Regions from separate parts of the Homo sapiens genome. Here region 1 is linked to region 2. Evidence: fine-mapped expression QTL. A gene starts in region 2. The other region holds a variant in brackets. All regions are shown on one strand. Distances are between the middles of the regions.

Region 1 (8,000 bases), 380 kb before region 2:
ACCGGCTGCTTGAGGCAGGGGCTTCCGTCAGGAGAGCTGGATCCTGCTCTGGGCCGCAGATCAAGAGGCTAGGGGTGGGGCATGGGGAGCCTGCAGAGCAGCCAGCAGCTGTGCTCCCCCTTCACCCCCACCTGCTGCAGGGGAGCGTGTGCTGCCCAGGCGATAACTTTGCATAGGTTAGAGTTGCAGGGCTATATTTTGGAGTTCTGGTCCGAGAACAGCAAGTTAGTTACATAGAACTTTTAATGGGTGGGAGTTTCAGGCTTGGCACCCCATCTCAACTAGGCTTATCTTCACCTTCCAGTGCGTCTCATCTCTTAGAAATTTTCTTCATTTTCTTTCTGCATTATGTGTGATCTGCCTCTGTGTTATAACTGCGTACAGCTCTCTAGCAACAGAAATAGCACAAAAAATACCCAGAAATTTTCCCTGACTGCTCCCTTCTCGTCTCGTTCACAGACATGTGTAGTTTGCAGTTTCAGGTGTTTTATAGGTGTTCTATTCTTAAATCTTTTTCCCCTAAATAAAAATGAAAATACCTATGATAAATTTTGGAAACTATAAACGAGAAAGTTACTCATCCTCTATCACGCAGAGGATAAGCACTGTTAACATTTCTGTATGATTCCCCTTGCTGTTTTGTGTGTTTACACAGGCATGCGTTGTGATTGAATTGAACTGTTAAATTGGGCAATATTTTGAATCCTATTTTTTCCCCCATTTCAAATATTATGTACTTCCCCCATCATAAAAACCTTCTGAAAGCATTCATTTAATAAGTACATTCTCAAGTTTCACTTTTTCATTTAATACATTTAGTTTTATGTTCTTATTCCATATCATTTTAAGCAGTTGTGTACATCTACTGATTAAATATTATAAACAGGCATACGTTGGAGATACTGCAGGTCCAGCTCTAAACCACTGCAATAAAGTGAATATGGCAGTACAGCTGGTCACGTGAACTTTTTGGTTTCCCAGTGCATGTAAAAGTTGTGTTTACATTATATTGTAGTCTAGCAAGTGTGTGATAGTATTATGGCTAAAAAAATGTGTACATACCTTAATTTTAAAATACATTTTTGCCAAAAAATGCTAACAAAGTAAGCACATGCTATTGAAAATGACACCAGTAAGATTTGCCCAATGTGGCTGGGCACGGTGGCTCACTCCTGTAATCCCAGCACTTTGGGAGGCTGAGGCGGGCGGATCACCTGAGGTCAGGAATTCGAGACCAGCCTGGCCAACATGGCCAAATCCCATCTCTACTAAAAACACAAAAATTAGCCAGGGATAGTGGTGGGCACCTGTAATCCTAGCTACTTGGGAGGCTGAGGCAGGAGAATCGCTTGAACCCAGGAGGCGGAGGTTGCAGTGAGCCGAGATCGTGCCATTGCACTTTAGTCAGGGCAACAAGAGCAACACTCTGTCTCAGAGAAAAAAAAAGAAAAAGAGACTTGCCCAATGTGAGGTTGCCACAAACCTTAAATTCGTCATTAAAAAAAAAAAACAACAAACCACCCCCAGTATCTGTGAAACACAATAGAATGAAGCACAATAAAACAAGGTATGGCTGTATTATAGTTTTTTTTTTTATGTATTACTTGAACCATACTTGACCCTAGTATTTTATATATGTTAAACAGATAAAGCATAATAATAAACACATGCCAGTTCCCCAAGTTAGCTGGAATATTGCCAACATCATTGAAATTACCTGGGTGTTTTCCCCCAGCCCTATCTCCCTTCTTCACCTCCAGAGGTAACCATTACCTTGAATTTTGTTATCATTCCCTTGCTTTTTAAAGTCTTCATTATATAAGTTTGCATTTCTGTACAATACATTTAATTTTGCTTGCTTGTTTGAGGTTTGTAGACTCAGTAGGACATATGTAGTCCTCGAGCATTGATTAAAAAAAAAAAAAAAAAAACCCTGTTGTAGATTCTGGGATTCATTGATGTTCCTGTGGCTCATTCATTGACACTGCTCTATAATATTCCATTGTCCATTCTGTAGTTTATGCTCCTTTAGAAATACTTCCATGATGTGATTTTTATGAGTAATGCTGCCATGAAAATTTCTGTACATGTCTCCTGATGCATGTGTACAAAGCTTTCCTAGGAGTCGGATTGCTGGGCTGTAGGAGATGTGCATGTTTGACATTAAAAGGTAGCACCACAAACCTTTTCAAAGTATTTGTTCTGTTTTGCCTTCCTGCCAGTGAGGTATAAGAAGTGGTTGTTGAGGGCCGGGCGCAGTGGCTATGCCTGTAATCCCAGCACTTTAGGAGGCTGAGGCAAGCAGATCACGAGGTCAGTAGACCAAGACCATCCTGGTTAACATGGTGAAACCCTGTCTCTACTAAAAAATACAAAAAAAAAAAAAAAATCAGCCAGGTATGGTGGCGGGCGCCTGTAGTCCCAGCTATTCGGGAGGCTGAGGCAGGAGAATGGTGTGAACCTGGGAGGCGGAGCTTGCAGTGAGCCAAGATCGCGCCACTGCACTCCAGCCTGGGCAACAGAGTGAGACTCCGTCTCAAAAAAAAAAAAAAAAAAAAGTTATTGGGGCCGGGCATGGTGGTTTGAGGTCAGGAGTTCAAAACCAGCCTGGCCAACATGGTGAAACCCTGTCTCTACTAAAAATACAAAAATGAGCTGGGCATGGTGGTGGGCACCTGTAATCCCAGCTACTCGGGAGGCTGAGGCAGGAGAATGGCGTGAACCTGGGAGGCGGAGCTTGCAGTGAGCCGAGATCGCGCCACTGCACTCCAGCCTGGGCAACAGAGCAAGACTCCATCTCAAAAAGAAAAAAAAAAATGTAGTTATTGGGGCCGGGCATGGTGGTTTGAGGTCAGGAGTTTGAAAGCAGCTTGACCAACATGGTGAAACCCTGTCTCTACTAAAAATACAAAAATGAGCTGGGCATGGTGGTGGGCGCCTGTAATCCCAGCTACTCGGGAGGCTGAGGCAAGAGAATCACTTGAGCCCAGGAGGTGGAGGTTGCATTGAGCCGAGATCGTGCCATTGCACTCCAGCCTGGGCGACAGAGTGAGACTCTGTTTCAAAAAAAGTATGTGGTGGCTCCTGCCTGTAATCCCAACACTTTGGGAGGCCGAGGTGGGTGGATCCCTTGAGGCCAGGAGTTTGAGACTAGCCTGACCAACATAATGAAACCCCTTCTCTACTAAATAAATAAATAAGCAAGCAAGCTGGGTGTGATGTTGTGCGCCTGTAGTCCCAGCTACTTGGGAGACTGAGGTACAAGAATCATTGAGCCCGGGAGGCAGAGGTTTCAATGAGCCAAGATCCCACCACTGCACTCCAGCCTGGGCGACAGAGTGAGACTCTGTCTCAAAAAAAAGTTCTTGCTAAACCCCGTC[G/A]GCACTTGGTATTAAACTAAAATACCCTCTCGCGGTGCTTACTATGTACCTGGTACTGTTATAAATGCTCTTCATATATTGTTTAATTTTCATAATAATCTTGTGAGATAGGTACTGTTACTCATCCCCAATTTACAGGTGACAAAACAGAGGCGCAGAGAGATTAGCTAACTTGCTTATGGTCACACAGCTAGTAAGTGGTGGGGCCACGATTCAAACTAAATGTTCTTCCTCTTCAGTCCTACGTAATAGGTGTAAAATGGAATCTTCTTGTGATCTTCTTTTGTATTTTTCTGATTACTGATGATACTGAGTATTTTTTCATATGTTTATTCCCTTTTCATGAAGAAGAAATATAAAATTTAAAACCATCTCCCTATTGTTGGGGCACTCAGGTTGTTTGTAATTCTCTGCTGTTCATGCTTGAGGGAAAATCATTGGCACATGTAGCTTTTTTATGTCTTCTGTTGGCTTGTTTACTTTTACATTTCCAGTGAAATTAAGAGTACTTAGTGGTTAAAAATGGCTGTGCTCTTCCACATTGCCTTGTGATCTTGAGGCAATTACTTGCCCTCTCTGTGTTTAGTGTCCTTATCTCTGATCTCCACCTTGGAGGAGCCTGTGGTGATTAAATGAGATAAGTGAATGTGCGACAATTTGCATGATACTCTGCCTGTCATAAGAGGGTTCCATCAGAGTCACGTAGAGACTTTTCCTGGTTCCTTCTTTTCCTTTCTTCCTCGAACCCACATTAGTTACTGTTAGGTCAGAGGACATGAACAAAGTCCTGTGCTTCTGCCAGATATGATGACCTCAGGGAATTAGGCCCATTTCAGCTTTTTTCTAAGTATCACCCCAGCCACTGACAGATTTGCTGTATCTGCCCATTTTGTAGTAGGAAAAAAAATTAGATTTTAAAATGTTTTACTGGTATGCATGTAGTAACCACAAGAACAACTGCCTCCCCCTCCCCCCATATAAGAATACCCTCTGCCAACGTATAATGCTCTCAAGAAGTTAGACATAATCCTGGAGTTGCTGTCTGCAGAGGTGGCCAGTTTGGGTATGGAGGGTGCAGACATGGGACTGGGCTAGCCAGTGTGCCCATGGGCACACACTCACTTCTGCAAGAACAGGCAGATGTGCACCTCCTCTGCAAGGGTTCCCCTAAAACTCTCTTTCTGCACTCGCTTATTAGTTTTATCAATAAATCTTCCGAAGGGAGAATCCTCTTAAGAAATGAATAATTGATCAACCCTAGACAGAACATGCCATAAATACAACCCATTTGCTATTAGAGAGAGTGGGGCCATCCATTTGGTGGCAAGGAAGAAGGAATTAGCTTTGTAAGGAGGTGGATTCTGAACTCTAGGACTGAGATAAAGGATGAGGCTGGAAAGAGCAGCCCCTTGAACAGCTGCTGTGGATCAGAGTAGCTGAGCTGGTGGTATGTGTGGTTGGGAAAGTACTGGGTGGAGTTTACTGGCTTAGCAGGGTGGGGTGTTGCCACCACTATCTTGGAGTCCCATGAGAATTCGCTTCAGGAGATTCCTTTGCAGAGAATGGGCTACTGGGCTCTGAAGGTTGACTACAGGCTAGTTCATTCTGGCCAAAAACACCTTCTTGGACATGGTTCTTCTAATATGGTGTGTAACTGCTGACAGTCAGCAAAACAGCCCTCCAGACTCTGTTCCTCTTGTAACTTCCCCTTTCTTAAAGGCCTTAAGAAGGTATAGCCAATCAGGACTTTGCTCTTTCAAGATAACATTCTTGTCTTCTCTCTTCCCTATTTTCCTTTAATAGAGAATTGCTGATCTGGTTTTGATGTGTTGAGAGTAAGGAAGGATTTGGGAAACCTGGTGTCATATCTGTATCCTTCACTGTGTTGTTGACTGAACGAGGTGTTTGGGGAGTGGCGTTCCACACTTTTCCAGCCTTGCCTGGCATCTGGGGGGCTCTGGAGTCCCCTGGGTGGGGAGAGCAGGGTGCTGCTGTTGAATGCCTGCAGATGTCTGGAGGACCAGCTCTGGGGATTTGGGAGTCTAAGAAGACAGTGCACTGTAGAGGAGGAGGCAGGGGACCTTGTGAGCTAGCCAGGCGGGGTGCAGGGTCACCTTCAGCACAGGGTCCCCAGCTCTCTGAAGGTGGGAAATGTGACTGGGGTTGGCGATGCTGTATGCACATATGAACTCTTCATGGAGTGTAGTGAAGAGTTATGTCTCTTCTTGGATCTGAGAAGGGCATTTTCTCTGCCTGAGTAATGTTTCCTGCCTCTCAGTCTCCTAGTAACAAATTCCTGCTGCCCCTAGGTGATGGGAACACACCTCCAACTTGGGGAAGACCTAGCCTGGGATGGGCATACCCCCTTTCAGTGATATTGTGAAGCAGGGAAGAAACCTGATGGGGTTGGGTGTGAGGACCCAGCGAGGGCAGGGAAAAGGGGTTTGCACCTGGAAGTTGGCAGTAAGATGTGCAGCACTAGCACCTTGGGCTTCTCTGGAGGCCCCTGTAGCCTTTGCAGACCTCTACCATGTGTGCATTGTAATGGGTGCCATAATAGCAGAGAGATCACCAACTCTGCCTAGAGCTTCCATGGGTCATCTCAAAGTATAGGGGTGATGAGGCTTGCACCAGCCAGGTCCCTAGGGAGGAAGCAGTGACAGAGCTTTTTGAATGCATTCTAGAGACTCCGGTAGGTTTTGAAGGTGTGGCAGATGCCTGGTTCCCTAGGAGCAAATGGTGTAGTTGACCATACACTCTTACGAAAAGATCCCTAACAGAACGTGGCTGTGCACGGTAACTGTAGGCTCTGGGGCAGCCTGTGGTGGAAAGGACTGGTCAAGGAGGACTTTCTCAGGGAGGGATTGATTCTGTTCCTTGTCTCACTGCTAAATTTAATCACTTAACCTCCATAACCACGTTTCATCCCCATCTGTCTGCTAGTGCCTTAGTTCAGGTCCTTATTGTTACTAATCTGGACAGTTGCATAGTCTCCTAACTGGTCTTTGGGTCACCAGCCTCGAACCCTGCAGTCTGTCTTCTGCAAGATGCCTGAATGCCCCTCCTGAGATGTAAATCTGCTCTCTGTAGCATTCAGGCTGTGGTCCACACACCTGCCTCCCCTGCCTTTGCGATCAAGATACACTCAACAGCTTATGCATCTCCAAGCCTGCCAGGGCTTATGATTCTGTGCCTTTTCACATGCTATTCCTTCCATCTGGAACTCCTGCAGAATTCTTCCCCTTCTTCCAAAATACCTGCTACTTTCTCCAGCCTCTCTGAGATTTCTTTGAGATAAAACCTTCCTGGACACCCACCTGCCCACCTGCCCAGATAGCTGTATATACTGAGCCACCACAGGCCCCTGTAGATACTGCTTTCACAGCACTGATATGATTTAGGGCATTGACTTATATATAGGCCTTTTTCTTCCTTTTCATCTTAAAACTTTTTGGGGTCCTGAAATACATAGTCTGGTCTATTGTCAGGCAACAAATCACCCCAAAACACAGTAGTATAAAACAGTAATCATTTTGTTATGCCCAGGGATTCTGTGGATTGGGAAGTCAGAAGTGACAACAGCATGGGTAGCTTCTATATGTTCCTTAATATTTAGGGTCTCAGCTAGGAAGGCATAAAAGCTGGAGGTAACTTAATGACTGGGCTGGAATCCTCGAAGGGCTCCTTCACTCACACATTTGGCAGATGATGGCAGCTGTTGGCTGGGACCTCAGCTGGGAATGTCAGCTGACTCCTCCATGTGGCCTCTCCACATGGCCTGGGCTTCCTCACAGCATGGTGACTGGGCTCCAAGAGTGAGAATCCCAAGAGAACCAGGCAGAAGCTGAATTGCCTTTTATGATCTAGCTTTGAAAGTCATGTAGCATCACTTCTATTATCACGAGCCCACCCAGATTGAAGAGGAGGGAACATAGACCCCCACCTCTCCATGGGGGAAATGTCCAAGTCACACAGTAAGAAGAGCATGTGGAATGGAGGGAATGTTGTGGCTATCTTTGGAACACACAGTATGTCACACGTATTAAGCACTCGATGCATATGAATGGCATTCTTAAACTGAAGATTGAAGCCAGGGTGGACAATGAGGAAGAGTTATGAAGTTGGTGGCTGGGAGTCTTAAGAGAGGGTATGTTCAAGAGATTGTAGAGTGGAGAAGAGTGTGTGTGTGGTGTGTGTGCATGCACACATATGTGTGGTCAGGGAGGGGGCTTGGGGATACATAGAGTTGCTTAAAGGACCGACTGTCAGGTGAGACAATTAAAACATACACACAGAAGGACCCAGATTGGGAAGGCAGGGATGGAAAGGGAGGAGATAAAATTGAGAGACAGTTCACATTTAGAATTGTTTGGATCCAATGACTGCACACATTGGAAGAATATGGGTAACATTTGGGTTGGGAATGTTGGTGAATGCAAAAATAGGAAAGTTGGGAAAGTTGCTCTCAGGAGGGAGAGTTCAGTTCTGTTTTAGACAAGCTGACTCTCAGTGGGCTTACGGCATGGTCTAGGGGTTGGAGCTAGCTGGAGGGTAGTTGAGAAGTCCAGACAGAAAGCAGACATTTAGACCAGGCATGGGGGCTCACACCTGTAATCCCAG
Region 2 (9,735 bases):
CAGCTGCGGAGAAGGCTCCCAAGATTCCATCTGCTCCTGGGAGCCTCGACCCATCCACGACCTTCCTAAAGGGATCCGGTCCACGCCCCCAGGGTCCTGGGGAAATGCACTCGGGCAGTGAGATGTCGGAAAGGGGAGAGCAGGAGCAATGGCAGAGGAGTCCGGAGAGGCTCCTGAGGAGTGTACTTCGCCTTGGAAGTTCTCCAGGCCCTCCGAGGTGGACGCGTGCAGCACGGGCACTGAACCCTGAGCCCAGGAGTCCGTCGTGCATGCCGAAGGCTCCTCGTCCTCACCCCATGTGGGGTCCTCAGCTACTGCAGATTCTCCCTCGTCCCGGGCCAGGAAGCGCCACTCGGTGATCTGCAGCATGGCCTCCCGGGCCTGGCTGATGGTGAATGGAATGCACTGCGGAGGCGAGAGAGGATCTCAGGTCGGCAGGGAGGGGCGGGAGAGGGAGACGAGTCTGAAGGACCCGGATCCCGGCCCACCTGCTGAGTCAGGTAGACTTTGAAAGCAGAGTCCATGACTCGAGCCAGCAAGTCGGCCAAGATGTCCCCTACGACGTCCTCGCCCTCCTCGAGGGCTGTAAGCGCCATCCACTCGGCCTCACTGAGCCGCCCAGGCACAATATCCACCTGCGGCACTGGCACAGTGGGCGGCCGCACTTTTTCCGCCTTGGACCGGGTCACCCCGCGGTCTCGGACCTGCCTCTCCTGCCTCTGTGAGAACAAAACATGGCAATCAGAGCAGGAAACCAAGAAGTGGAACGGAAGAGTAGCTATAGGCTAGGAGGAAGCTTTCTCAAGTTGTCTAGTGGGAAGGAAAAGGGCCAATTGACGAAGAGCCTACTATGTGACAGATACTTAGTAGATGTTTGACCTAATAATTTTCATTAACAGCCCACTAACCACAATTGACAGATAAAGAAACTGAAGTGGGGAGGCTGAGGAAGGAGAGTCACTTGAACCCGGGAGATGGAGGTTGCAGTGAGCAGAGACTGCGCCACTGCACCCCAGCCTGGCGACAGAGCAAGACTGCGTCTCAAAAAAAAAAAAAAAAAAAAAAAAGAAAAAGAAAAAGAAAGAAAAAAGAAACCGAAGTCTGACAGAAGTTAACCAGCCTTGCTTAGGAGCACACAGTGAGCAAGCCCAGACAATGTGAAGGTTTAACTTCATGGCCCTTATACCAGAGCAAAGTGTTCAAAATTCTTGAGTGTTCAAATTACTTGAGAAAGACAATTCAGTAAACAGTCCTGGAATTATTGGTGCTATTTAGAGTCTTCTCTACATTTTGTTTTCCAGAAAAGGATTTTTTTTTTTTAATTCAAGTAATTGCAAATAGGAAACCAGAGGGGGAGCCCCAGGCTGGGACAAATCATGGCTACCCCTCCCTGACAGACCCGGGGGAGCAGGTGGCCCCTACATGCTTTATGGTGGATTTGGGCCCCCTTGCTCTCTCTGCTGCAGCATCCTAGGGGAGTAGTCAGTCACCCAGCCTGCCATGCCCCAGCCCCTCTTCTCCACGAAGAGTAACCTGGGGGAGGGGATCATGGGCAGAACAGGAGGCAATGTGGATGAACATTTGGCGCTGCTAGCAGCAGCAATGACAGATGTCAAAGAATGGAACATTGAACCAAAAACAAAACAACTGTCCAGAGGTAGTTTGTGAACAAAGGAAAAATGGAACCAGAACCTGGGGGGGTGGCAGGAGCAGGAGGGCTGGGAGTGGGAAGGGTGAGCTCCTTGTTATTGGTGCCCCATCTGAGGAGAGGAAAATGGCCAAGTGGTAGAAGCAAAGTAGGGTTGGGGGAGCAGCCCCAGCCCACCTCAGGTAGCTGCCACAGGGCTCATGGGCCTCACCTGGACAATAGGTGACTGCATCTCCATCACTGCAATATGTACTCAGATCCCAGGCAGACGGTAAGGGGGCTGGGGCCACTGCAAAGAGGGAGTAGGGGACTCACACCCCTCCCGCTTTCCTGTAGCCAATGGGGGCTGTCCAACCTAGTGCAGGGACTAGGGAAGGTGGGGAAGGATGAAAGGTGTGAGCCTCACGTGGTGACAAAGACAGTTTGGCTGGGGGAATCCTGGGGGCCAGCACCCCCCTCCATTGGCCACACCTGCTGCTGCCAGGACAGTGGAGTGGGGTGTGCCAGAATGGGGGCTTGGGCCCCTTTTAAGACCAGGGGAACCCTCCCAGGCCCCTCTATGGGAAGCCAGAGGCAACAGTGGAGGAGCAGAGAAGTGGCTCCCAAACCAAAAGCCCAGAGAGCAATGTCACCACCAAGGGATCAGGGACGCAGCAGGTGCAGGGTGCGGCTAAGCAGGACATTAGCCTTGTCCAGGAGGGCACATGTGTATGAGTGGGTGGACGGGGGGAGGAGGGGGTAGGGATGGGAAGAGGCCAGGGGAAAAGTCCTCTCCACTCAGCCCATAGGGACCTGCAGCGGCTGGTGTGTTGTGTAGTGTGGTGGTGAAGGTGCAGGTGGAAGATGAGGGTGGTGGCTGGAGGCGGTGGTGATGGTGGGTGTAGGGAAGGGGTGGGGGGTGGGAGGTGGGGGGTTGGGAGCAGATCAAAGCTGTCCAGTCCCAGAAGGAAGCTGCTCCTCCAGTGAGGACTCCTGCGAGATGCCCTTCTCTTCCTCCTTCTCCAGTTTTTTGGGTCTTCCCCTTGGTTTCCTTCCCAGAGTTGTGGTGGTTTTCCCGGTCTTGGCAGCACCCTTGTTTTTGCTTCCCTTTGGTCGGCCCCGAGGTCTCTTAGGTGTTGGCACTTCGCTGAGCTCCTTCTGACTCCCTACCAGCGCTGTCCTGGGACTCACCGGAGGCTGCTTGCGCGGCCTGCCACGGCCCCGCTTCTCAGTGCCGTCCTTTTTCTGCTTGGAGGCCAAGGGCTGGCTGGACTTCGAGCTCGACTCGCTCATCTTCCCTTCTCTAAGGACTAGTTGGAAAAGTGATGGCTGGGATGGGCGAACTCGGCCGCTGGCCTGCGGTGCATGCTCCGGTTTGCCGGGAGCAGCGGTGCTGGGCGCTGAGGACAGGCCAGTCTCCACCGCAGCCGCCCCTGGTCGCAAATGCGGATGCCTTCCTGGAGCCGCGCCAGCGCCAGAAATAGCCCAGGCTCGGAGTCCCACTTAGAAGAGCACAGCCCCGGCTCAGGGGAGCTTAAAAAGTTCTCTACATTTTTTTTTTTTAACCAACTATTCTTATCTCCATTTTATGGTAATTTACCCAGTATCATACAAGTAGGATGTAGTGAAGTCAGAATGCATTCACATGCAAGTCTGTCTGACTCCAGAGCCTCTCAAAGACATTTGCAACAAATATGAAAAAAGATAAATATCCCCGAGTAAATTAAAAGCTCATATAAAAAAAAAAATGGCCGGGCGCAGTGGCTCACGCCTGTAATCCCAGCACTTTGGGAGGCCGAGGTGGGTGGATCATTTGAGGTCAGGAGTTCGAGACCAGCCTAGCCAACATGGTGAAACCCCGTCTCTACTAATAATACAAAAATTAGCCAGGCATGGTGGTGGGCGCCTGTAATTCCAGCTACTAGGGAGGCTGAGGCACGAGAATCACTTGAACCCGGGAGGCAGAGTTTGCAGTGAGCTGAGATCATGCTACTGAACTCCAGCCTGGGTGACAGAGCGAGACTCTGTCTCAAAAAAGAAAAAAAAAACTAATAAAATAAAAAATAGAAGAAGAAAAATGGCCAGGCACAGTGGCGCACACCCACAGTACCAGCTGCTCGGGAGGCTGAGGCAGGGGGATTGCTTGAGCCCAGGAGTTCAAGTCCAGCTTGGGCTATATTGCAATAAAAATTTAAACTATAAGAAGAAAAACCATTTAAGATCCCAAAGATAAGCAAAGGACATGACATTTCACAAGAGAGGGACTGTAGATGACTAATAAATATAGTATTGACATTCTGATTTCTAGTTCATCAAATTGGAATTATTTTAAAAACAAGAATACTCAGCATTGGCAAAGGTTTAGTGTGATACCATGCTGCAACAGTATGCATGAAGACATTAAAAAATGTTTTCACTTCCTCAACCCTGCAATTTCAGTTCTATAAATACAACCAAAAGGCATTTTCTGAAATGAAGATAAAAATATATTCTCCAACAAATTCTCTGCGGTATTTTTATAATAGCAGAATATTGAAAACATGTCTTTAAAAAGAGAATAAATAATTGACATGCTATATATACTGAAATATTATGCAATGATTAAAGGTAATCTTTTTTTGTTTGTTTGTTTTTGTTTTTGAGACGGAATCTCGCTCTGTCACCCAGGCTGGAGTGCAGTGGCAAGATCTCGGCTCACTGCAACCTCTGCCTCCCAGGTTCAAGCAATTCTCCTGCCTCAGCCTCCGGAGTAGCTGGGATTACAGGCGCCTGCCACCAGGCCTGGCTAATTTTTTTTCTATTTTTAGTAGAGATGGGGTTTCGCCATGTTGGCCAGACTGGTCTTGAACTGGCCTCAAGTGATCTGCCCACCTTGCAGGCATGAGCCACCAACCCAGCCATTAAAGGTAATCTTTAGAAAGAATTTGCAATGGCATAAAGCAAATGTTTATGATGTAACGTTAATTGAAAGAAGCAGGATACAAACTTACACATCAATTATGATCTCATATATGTAAACCACTATGTGTTCAACAAAAGGAAAACTTCAAAATGATAACAGAGGATACGTTTCCTTCCTATGCTCTTTTCTATTTTGTAAGTTCTCTACAATGAGTTTGTTTCCTTTTGTAATCACTTAAAAAAAAAAAAAGACTAGTCCCCAAAACTCACTTTAGAGACATAAAAAGTTTACAAACAATCTCTTGGGAGCTCCCTCAATTCCCCACAACAGTCTCCCTGAACCTGGTTCCTTCCAAAATGTACTTCCAAATGTGATCTTCCCAAACCTTTGCCTATTGCCCCGCTAAAACCTTGTCTCATATCTGTTTCCTAAAATTCATTATCCCCCCAAATCTGCTGTTTCCTAAGTCTTGCAGAACTCAAAATCCCTGAAGTCTCATTAACCCTATCCACCAGTGAGAACAGCCCTGTAGCAAGCACCAGGAGTGGCCCATAGCCCAGGCCAAGCTTGACTAGAGCAGGGCTGACTGGACTGAGTAAAGAGAGTTGTTTCCTTAGACCTCCCCTCCCAGCCTCGCATCTGACACCCGTGATGGTGACCAGAAGGGACAGAGATATTTTTGCACAAAGGCTCTTCAAATCCGTTTTCTTTCTTCTTCTTCTTTTTTTTTTTTTTTTTTTTTTTTTTTTGAGACAGTCTCTCTCTGTCACCCAGGCTAGAGCGCAGTGGCGCGATCTCGGCTCACTGCAACCTCCGCCTCCCGAGTTCAAGCAATTCTCCTGCCTCTGCCTCCCGAGTAGCTGGGATTACAGGCACCGCGCCACCACATCCAGCTAATTTTTTGTATTTTAGTCGAGACGGGGTCTCGCCATGTTGGCCTGGCTGGTCTTGAACTCCTGAGCTCAGGCAATCCTCCCGCCTCAGCCTCTCAAAGTGCTGGGATTACAGGCATGAGCCATTGAGACCGGCCCCGTTTTCTTTATTTTAAAATTGATTGGCTCTTAAACAATTTGACTTTCAAGTGCAGTCTCTGAATTATTTAATATATTTCTTCCTCTTGAAATTCTCGAAATAGATTTTTTCTGTTATCTTCCCTCTCTAAATGCTCATCCATTTAAATACGCACCACCATGTAAGAGACTTACTACATTCATTAGCTGTTTCAAAATCCACTTCCTGTTCTCGGGCTCTACACCACCCACTGACCCTTTCCCTCATGGCTTGAGTGTAACAAAGCGTTTGAGTGGGCACCGTGCAGGTGTAGGTTTTCTGCCCGAGTACCGACGTGGCTTCCTTGGTCATCTAAACTCCCGCGCGGTGGGCGGGAGCAAGTAGGGGCACTGGGCGGCCCAGAGCCAGCCCACTGTTCCCGACACCGACCTTAACGGCCGACCCTGGCTCTGGCGCATCCCCAGCTGAACTGAAGCTCACCGAGCCTTCGTGCGCCATCGCCAACGCGGTCGCAGCAACGCTGGTGTTTCTGCTGCATCCGGGCCGCGTAAGCCACCTAACAGTCGCCTGGGCAACCACGGGCTCGGGGTCGCTCGCCCCGCCCACAGTTGCCCCGGCAACCGCGCCGCCCGCGGCACGTTCCGGCCGCTCACCCCGCCCAAGGGCCGTGCGTACGTGCGTCGTCTCTATGGTGGCGGCGGATTTGGAGGGACCCTACGAACCAGGAGTCAGGCGAGCCGATCTGGGGCTGCAGGTGTTACCTCTGATCTAGGCCGGGGGCTTCAGGGATCCGAGCCGAGGGAGAAAGCCTTGGGGGCTTCATCACACTTATTTGGCTCGCGGGCTTGGGGCCATCGGGTGGTCCTGTGTCATCCCCATTCCTCCTCTGCGATTCCCCCGTCGCCCCAAAACAGCCCTGGGACTCCCCTGTCTTGCTCCTCGAGACCCTCCCCCATCACCGTCCTCTGGGCACCCCATCCTATGACCCAGTCTCAGGCATCTTCCGAAATGCTCGATGATAGCCGCCCTCGGGCATCTCCGCTGCGTCTGTTTGTAGCGCGCCTGGTGATTCGGCTGCACCCCCACACAGGATGTTCCGCTGGGAGCGCTCCATTCCCCTGCGAGGCTCGGCCGCCGCCCTGTGCAACAACCTCAGTGTGCTGCAGCTGCCGGCTCGCAACCTCACGTATTTTGGCGTGGTTCATGGACCAAGCGCCCAGCTTCTCAGCGCTGCTCCTGAGGGTGTGCCCTTGGCCCAGCGCCAGCTCCACGCTAAGGAGGGTGCTGGAGTGAGTCCCCCACTTATCACTCAGGTGAGGCATGGAGCTGGGAGTGATGTTGCTGAACCCAGTCCTACCCCCAGCCTTTTCTCTCCAAACCTTCAGGAGCAGGCATGTCCTAACCTCAGAATCTCCCCAGGCATGTCCTAACCTCAGAATCTCCCCTCTCCTGCCGGGCGCGGTGGCTCACGCCTGTAATCCCAACACTTTGGGAGGCTGAGACGGGCACTTGAGGCCAGGAGTTCGAGACCAGCCTGGCCAACATGGTGAAACCTCTTCTCTACTAAGAATACAAAAAAAATTAACCGGGTGTGGTGGCGTGCACCTGTAATCCCAGCTACTTGGGTGGCTGAGGCAGGAGAATCGCTTGAACCCAGGAGGCTGAGGTTGCAGTGAGCCGAGATGGCGCCACTGCACTCCAGCCTGGGCCACAGAGCAAGACTCCGTCCCCCAAAAAAAAAAAAAAAACAAACAAACTCATCTTCCCTGCTTTGATTTTCTCCCTACACTGATGCACCTCCCTCCAGGTCCACTGGTGTGTCCTCCCCTTCCGAGTGCTGCTGGTACTCACCTCACATCGAGGAATACAGGTAAGAAGAGGACTCTCCTGCTTGCCCCACCAGAGCCTTCTCAGCTTCCCTGCCAGGCTTCCAGACTTTCCCACTTGCCTCTAAACACTTCCAGACTTTTCACATGCTTGGCCCACTCACTCTTTTTCTATTTCTTATCTTCAATCTTTCCATCTTTTCCAGTTTCCAAGTGCCACCTCCAGTATCTGCCCCTTTACTAGCTGTATGTCCTTACACTATTAACTTCTCACTCTCACTGTTGTCCTCTGAAAAAATTAGGATAAAAATAGTACCTACATCCCAGATTTGTTTTGAGGATTAAATGGGCTAAGGCTAACACGGATATGTGAAGTACTCAGCAGAGGTCAGTTGGGTTATGCCCCCTGGTTCTTGCCCCGGTCTTCCAGATGTACGAGTCCAATGGCTACACCATGGTCTACTGGCATGCACTGGACTCTGGAGATGCCTCCCCAGGTACCTGCAGGACCAAGTGGGGTGGGGGCAGGGAGTGTTTGCTAGGGCTGCAGGAGGGGATATTTCTGATCATTCTCCCCTTTCATATTCAGTACAGGCTGTGTTTGCCCGGGGAATTGCTGCCAGTGGCCACTTCATCTGTGTGGGTGAGGGAGCCAAGTGCAGGGCATGGAGGGGTGCTGGGGCATGTGGGCTGTGGCCAGGAGAATAATGAGGGCCTGAGGAAATTGTGGAAAGTTAGAGGGAAGGGTGGAAGTGGAGTGGAATCAGAGACTCCAGTAAACCATGGAAGGGTTCAGAGGGTCAGGGTGGGATAAGACAAGGCTAGTGAATGAAGGGGCATGGCCGTTGGAGCAGTGAGAGGGGGTTTTGTTACTAAGGTTTCTGGGATGGAGTAAGTGTTGAGTATGGTGGCTGGAGACCCAGGAGGGTCAGGAAGTCATCACTGGAGTACTGGTTCTGGATACAGGAACGTGGTCAGGCCGGGTGCTGGTGTTTGACATCCCAGCAAAGGGTCCCAACATTGTACTGAGCGAGGAGCTGGCTGGGCACCAGATGCCAATCACAGACATTGCCACCGAGCCTGCCCAGGGACAGGTGAGTGGACTTCCCCTACCCATCTGGGAGCCTTCCCCACCCTGGGAGGCAGGGGACCTGGCTTTGAGTCTTGGCTCTGCCACTAAACAGGTGGATGGCTTTGGGCAAATCTACATTTTCCTAGTCTTCAGCAACCAGGTTCAGTGATAAAGCCAGAGATACTTTACATTTATGTAGTATTTTATAGTTAATTAAGACTTTATAATACTGATGTGAAATGAGGAGTTGGAACAAATGGTTTCTAAGATACTTTCCAGCTCTGAAATGTGCAGCTTCCTTCTCTAGGGCAAGTCCCACCTATTCAGGCCCAGCTCCAGTGCCATCCATCCTCTCCAGGAAGCCTTCCCCATATTCTAGCTCCCACTGATGTCTCTTAGCTGAAACCTGAATTGGCACTGCCCTCAAAAGACAACTCTTGTCTCCCCAAGTAATTTGCAAACCTCTTGAGAACAGGGTGTATATTTTCTTATTCATATTCTCCATTGTACCTGGCATAGGGCTAGGCCCATAGGTTGTGTTGGCTGCCTGGTGTTGGGGGTGCAGGGGCCCAGGGTCTAGTCATGACTGTGACTGGTTCACTACGAGACCTCCAGAAGGTCACGACACTGTGGCCTCAGTTTTATCATCCATCCAGTGAGGCAATTATGCACCCCCTCCTAATGTTATTGGGGGATGGGACTCCATGAAGAAATTCAAGGAAAGCAGTTCATGCTTCCCAAGGGAACCCTGGTGGTAGGGGTGGTTTCTGATGGGTCTAGCTAGTGAGAGCTCCACACCTTGCCCTTTCCCTGGAGAGGCAAAGATGCACACACTGCCTCCCTTCCCCTCCTGCCCTGTATACAGGACCATAGCAGGGGAGAAAGGGAAGGGTTGATCTTGCCTTTCCCTTCAGGATTGTGTGGCTGACATGGTGACGGCAGATGACTCAGGCTTGCTGTGTGTCTGGCGGTCAGGGCCAGAATTCACATTATTGACCCGCATTCCAGGATTTGGGTAGGTGAGGCAGAAAGGGTAGAGGGCTTCCTGAGATAGCTTCAGGCTGGGGAGTAGGATTTGATCTGGGCAAAACAAAGTTGGGTGTCACCCTTGCAGAGTTCCGTGCCCCTCTGTGCAGCTGTGGCAGGGGATCATAGCAGCAGGCTATGGGAACGGACAAGTGCATCTATATGAGGCCACTACAGGAAATCTACATGTCCAGATCAATGCCCATGCCCGGGCCATCTGCGCCCTGGACCTGGCTTCTGAGGTGGGCAAGGTAAGTCTCCTCCTCTGTAC

Evidence for each region.
Region 1: its variant is fine-mapped to the expression of WDR54 in whole blood (TOPMed, PIP 0.93).

What each region holds. Positions count from the first base shown.
Region 1 is chr2:74,032,664-74,040,663 of GRCh38, forward strand. The region is part of intron 3 of TET3 (tet methylcytosine dioxygenase 3); the gene reads left to right. Among named protein-coding and RNA genes, the nearest start is that of TET3, 52 kb to the left of the region's middle. RefSeq lists an enhancer at 1-14 and a silencer at 79-224. The variant G/A (reference allele first, on the strand shown) is at 3,381.
Region 2 is chr2:74,415,523-74,425,257 of GRCh38, forward strand. WDR54 (WD repeat domain 54) reads left to right here and starts at 6,208. Exons shown (of 10, transcript NM_032118.4): 1 at 6,208-6,294; 2 at 6,631-6,853; 3 at 7,348-7,410; 4 at 7,797-7,863; 5 at 7,956-8,009; 6 at 8,333-8,460; 7 at 9,353-9,453; 8 at 9,553-9,715. The coding sequence starts at 6,632. It overlaps C2orf81 (chromosome 2 open reading frame 81), which reads right to left and starts at 6,097. Exons shown (of 3, transcript NM_001316764.3): 1 at 6,021-6,097; 2 at 489-719; 3 at 1-405. The coding sequence starts at 6,038. It also overlaps the pseudogene HMGA1P8. RefSeq lists a silencer at 6,028-6,307 and an enhancer at 6,708-6,887.